Regions from separate parts of the Homo sapiens genome. Here region 2 is linked to region 1. The links come from fine-mapping of genetic effects on gene expression. A gene starts in region 1. The other region holds a variant in brackets. All regions are shown on one strand. Distances are from middle to middle. Region 1 holds the start of COLEC10 (collectin subfamily member 10). Region 2 overlaps TNFRSF11B (TNF receptor superfamily member 11b).

Region 1 (3,036 bases):
AAGAAAAAAGAAAAGAAAAAGAAAAAGTAATGTGCCTGCCTGAATCATCCTGAAAGTATTTCCCCATCTTCCCCATAGAAAAATTGTCTTCCACCAAACTGGTCCCTGGTGCCAAAAGGGTTGGCACTGGTTTTAGCCACCCGGCCGCTGGTGTAAGCCACTCAGTTTGTGGTGCTTTGTTATGGCAGCCCTAGGAAACTAATGCACCTGTATTTCTTGGATTGATGGTTACTTGTAACGACATCTCTTAGGGATATTTTTTCAGCAGTCAGTCTGTATCAGGATCTGTAAGGTCCTTCTTTTCCAATTTCAAGGAAAGCAGGTCCAAAATCCCTTTCACCTAACTCTTAGTTGAGATGCTGTTCAAGAATGGAGAAGGTAAGGGGCCTCTCCAATATATGTGATTCTGGTTCCAATCTTCCAATATCTTACTATGCCCATACTATTTGTACAGGTTATAGGTTTGTGGAATAGATAGAGATCCTGATCTCTGTATCTATATCTGTATCTGATCTACATACTCTACATCTAAATCTGTTGAGCTTTTTATGAAACATAATACCACAAGCTTTTCCCCCTTATTTTGTAAAAGACTTGCTGAAAACACCATTTTAATAAAATTGTCATGTCATACACTCTCATATATTTTACCGTAATTTGCCCACTGTTAACACGTTGTTAGGCAATTGAAGGCCTTTCGCCTTTCTGCCACATCCCTTCAAATGAAGCTTTGCCCACATTTCAGAATATTTCCTTGAGATAGTGTACCAGAAAGGCTAAAAGCTATAAACTAGGCCAAAGGTAATAAACATTTTAATATTCCTAATACTTATCACCAAGTTGCTTCACAGAAAAGCTGGTTGTTCTTTCCTTTTGAATTTAATCACAAGAGAATAATCTTGGTAGCAAGAGTAAGAAGGTCATGGAGGGCATTGGAAGCATTAGTGTTCAACAGGCACAAGCAGGTAATAAATATCACCTTATGAAAAGCTCAAAGCCATGCACGGTGTTTGCATAACATGTTGCTAACTGAAGACCTCTCTGGTTCACAACCTTTCTGAAACTCAGCGTTTAAATGCAATATAGCCTATTAAATTGTCAGCTCAAGTACTCAGCAGAAGGCATCTCTATCTTCTTTGTTCTTGGGGATGTTTCTACTGACATGCACACTGGAGTTCAGAGATAATTTTCAATAAACTGTTGTCACTTGAAAATAAACAGTCTGGACAATGTATGGTCCATTTGGAGCACTGAGAAAATAAACAACCTAGGGTATGCTTCCTTCCTGTCTCTGTAGCCCTTTTTGGAATGTGTGTTCCAAATACTTCCCCTTCTTCCCCAAAGCAGGAGGTTTTATTTAAAATAAAGCTGTTTATTTGGCATTTCTGGGAGACCCTTTTCTGAGGAACCACAGCAATGAATGGCTTTGCATCCTTGCTTCGAAGAAACCAATTTATCCTCCTGGTACTATTTCTTTTGCAAATTCAGAGTCTGGGTCTGGATATTGATAGCCGTCCTACCGCTGAAGTCTGTGCCACACACACAATTTCACCAGGACCCAAAGGTGAGGAAAGAAAACCACAATTTTCATGTATAATAAATATGATATCTTCCCTCATCTCTGAACCCCTTCCTAGATTTCAATGACTTTCTCTTCTCTCCTCCCTAGTTTCCTCCCATTTTCCTTCTATTTTGGAAAATCAGGATTTTCCAGATCTGGTCTGTTACTTATTTAAAGCTCTCCTTTGATGTTAGGTAAGAGGATGTTGGGAAGGGGAAACCCAGGACGGAGATCTGAGGGAACTTACCCAGGGCAGGGGGAAATTCCCTGTTCCATTCTGCTCCGGGGCAGATGCACAATCCAGGCATGAGTCTCCAGAAGCCCTTTCCTTCCTTAAAAGCACCTCTATTATTGCACTGTTTGTACTCTCCTCCTTTCTAATACTGATGCTGGTAAAGCTGTTTAAGCAAAAGGTCAGTAACATAAAACTTAAATCTTAAATATATATTTCATAAGTTAATGGGATCCTGAGTTCCAACGTAGAGGATGGAAACATTTTGTCAAGCATTGAAGGTAGTATATAAATGAACATTTCTTTATTTGGAAGTGTAGTCTCTGGGGCCAAATGCCTTCTGCTCAAGGATGGTAGAATATTGCAAAATGTTCTCAAGTACAGCCAAGGTCCAAATATGCTTTAAGCAACCAGTAGATTTTAAAAAATCTATTTTTCTGGTTTTAGCTTTCACCCTTTTGTTCTGAAAGTGGTCACTGCACTGCAGATTGGTGCTCCCTTATTAGTAATTCATGCTGTTTCTCCAGGCTATAGGGTAGAAGAATTGCAGCTGCCTAAAATTTTAAGTAGAAAAAAGTGTTTTTCCAAAAAACAAAATTCAGAAATACATTGCCCCATGCCTGTCAGTTATTTAAATGTGTATTGCTTAAAGTGCATTTTTCTTAATCACTGAATTAATTTTCCTCTAAGATTGCAATCCAAGTTTTAACCTTTGATACGATAAAATAAATGCTGTGAGGAACAATGAGAGCTTAGAGCTTCCAAATAATTTCTTGGGTGAATAAATGAATAATGCGAGGGCAAATGTTCAGAAAGAAAGTTTTGATTAGAAATAAAGTATTTGCTTAAAACCGTTACTGAAGTTTCCTTAGAGTATAGGAAACTTTAGATTATTCCTGGGGTGTCATGGGGGCATTGAAAATTAAAGTTTTCCTTGTCCCTGCAAATGGGAGAATCCATTTGAGAATAGCACTATTTTTTACCTAATAGAAAACTTCTCCCTTCCCATTTTCCCATTAGAAACCCTGTTAAAACTTCAAACAGTGGAAATCTCATTAACTTTCCTCCTGAGCATCTGCAGACATTATGAGATAATTACAAGCCAGAGTGTGACAAAATGAAGTGAGTGATCCTGGGGAGAGGGACTTGGGAAGCGGTGTTCTAGAACCGTGGGTTCTAGAACTAAGTCTGTTATGTTCTTGGGTGTGATTTCCTCTTCTTCATCCAGAGCCTGGAAACTGTA
Region 2 (2,500 bases), 120 kb before region 1:
GGGACCTAGGATGATATAGCAACCAATACCTGAAATATTGCTGATTTGCTGTCAAGGAGGAAAAGGGAAAAAACAAACAACTTTGGGAGGGCTGTATACATCAACTATTAAGTGCTCTAATTTGTAAGTGACTTACATCATTTTAACTCATGAGTTACTGGCCAGAACTATTCACATTCTCCCCGACCCCATCCTCACCAGGAGGCTAGGATACACAATCCCACCAAGCTTCTGGAAGGCAGAAGAACTGGGAACAACTGGCAAAGAGCACAAACAAGTACATCATCCTCATAAACATTGCTCATGCTTTCTATTGGCATTTATTTTAGCACAATCTAGTTTTTTTTTCTTTTTTTTACATTTTTTACTGGATATTAAAAGAAGAGACAGGAAACAGAGCGTGGGTGCAGAGGTCTCTGTCTATCAGCCTGGTGTATTATTCAAGTGTAGTTGTTAATGGTCATGCCAACCTACCCATTATCATGCTTATTCTGCCTGAAGGTTTGACGTGTATTCCAAATAATGGTGTGCAGTTGTCAAGTACTTCCTTGTGAATACAAATTCAAAGAAAATTCCACTCAATGCATCTAAGGAGACTGCAAGTGACCATAATTATATCTCTTCAGTAAGTCCTGAGGGGATGTCTTGAACCTGGCTTTTAACTAAATGGGATATGAAAAATATGCACATTCATAACTTCTATGCATATTGGCTAAAGACAAGGAGAATGTGTCTCAGAATGAGAAAATCTTTTTTGGCTTAAAAGAATAATTTTTGACTCTAAAATATATAAGTCATACTACCTACTATCTAAAGGTAGGTAACATTTCAAAAGCTGCTTCATCTTGTGGTCTCACTGATTTAAATAGAATTTCTTATACATGAACCAATGGGGCAGAATAAACTTTGACAAAGGCAACAAAATAGAATATTTTAAAACATTCCTATAATGTTTTTTATAGACAAGTCTGTTTGATATTTGCATGTTTTGAGCGGGAAATAATGCACAA[T/TTG]TGTGTGTGTGTTTAATTCAGATGGCAAAATCTTTAAACTGCATCAGACCTTCCACATATGACCTATTCTAACCTCTATTTTAGAGATGCTGGAAGTAAGACCCATAGAAATGGTGTCACCCATTGGAGCTCAGAGACTAAATACAACTGAGAACTTTGGAACCTGGCTTTTAACTAAGTGAAATATGAAAAATACACACATTCATAACTTCTATGCATGTTGGCTAAAGACAAGAAGAATGTGTCTCAGAATGAGAAACTCTTGCCTCTCACCACTGCCATTGCAAAAGTATTGTCACCATGACCCACAACTGAATTGTTAAATTACATTTTTTGGTGATGGTGGTGGTGGTGAAATTGATGCAAATTGATGGTCAGGAGAATTTTTTAAGGAATAGAGTGCTGATATTCATATTTCTAAGAATAAAAGAAATCATTTTTTTGGAACAAGAAAGTAGTATTACATGGCAAGAGAACTGAGGTTTCTGGATCAAAGACCAGAGAAGAAAATTGGATTTACTAAAGGCAGCCACAAAGCTTAGATGAGTCACTGTCTTGTCTTGAATCTAAATTCATCTTGACACCTATTTTCCTATTTTATTGGTGATTATTGAAGAGGCTATTATAGAAAAGGTCCAGTCTGAATTGGAGTAGAAATCTTAAAGCTATTCATTTTATTTTTAAAGAAGATGGCTTCAAGGAAATTAAATATTTTAATAGGTATTAAGACTATAAATCTAGAGAGGTGAATTTTTTTAAAAATCACAACAATAAAGAGGTAAATCAAAGCCATTATCAGCACATTACTTTTTTTGGAAGGGCTTTAGGAATTACATTTCATTTCCTCTTGCATCCTCTATCCATTTATGGTGTGGCTGATTCAGGTGCTTCTGAGAAATTGGGGTGAAAAAAACTACTCAAGCACCTCGGAAATTATGCCAACTTGTAGATGGAAAGAACCATTTTAGTGTGTCTGTAGACTGTTCTAGCCTCAGAACGTTCATTTAGAGAGGCCAGGTAAATGTGAGAGAGAGTGGGTACCACTCAGTTTCTTAGCTAATGTGTTGTAACACTATTCTTATCCCTTACAACTGTCTAAAAGGATTCTTTTTTTAGACTTTCTCTGCTAGTTACCCCAAAATATTCTGTGGTAGTGAGTTCCAAAAACTAATTACATGTCACATAAAAACACCGTCCTTGTATCTATTTCAAGTTGGCCATACCTCACTCTTTCTTCTAGCATAGATAGTTTACGGATGTTCCTAGGATTTCCGATTCACTAGTTCCTGCTATTGTGGGTTGCTAAGTTTTATTTTGATTTTTGTTTTCTTTTCTAAACATGGCTGCTACTGCTGTTCATATTTGCATTTTGTTTACCAGACTATCGATATCAGAATTGTGCTCTGGGGGCGGCTTCACACTCTTCTCTCTTGGCTTGTGAAGTCATCCATCTCTATGGCTCCAAAAATCTTCTCTAGGCTGTTGAGACA

The links. PIP is the estimated chance that this variant, and not a neighbour inherited with it, causes the effect. A credible set is the group of variants that fine-mapping cannot tell apart.
Region 2: its variant is the best candidate, but not a certain one, in a credible set for the expression of COLEC10 in thyroid (GTEx, PIP 0.90).

Annotation. Positions count from the first base shown.
Region 1 is chr8:119,065,866-119,068,901 of GRCh38, forward strand. COLEC10 (collectin subfamily member 10) reads left to right here and starts at 1,382. Exons shown (of 6, transcript NM_006438.5): 1 at 1,382-1,564. The coding sequence starts at 1,417. It overlaps LOC101927513 (a long non-coding RNA gene), which reads right to left and starts at 2,917. Exons shown (of 2, transcript NR_134297.1): 1 at 1,809-2,917. RefSeq lists an enhancer at 1,357-2,556.
Region 2 is chr8:118,944,266-118,946,765 of GRCh38, forward strand. All of the region lies in intron 1 of TNFRSF11B (TNF receptor superfamily member 11b), which reads right to left. Among named protein-coding and RNA genes, the nearest start is that of TNFRSF11B, 6.4 kb to the right of the region's middle. The variant T/TTG (reference allele first, on the strand shown) is at 1,011.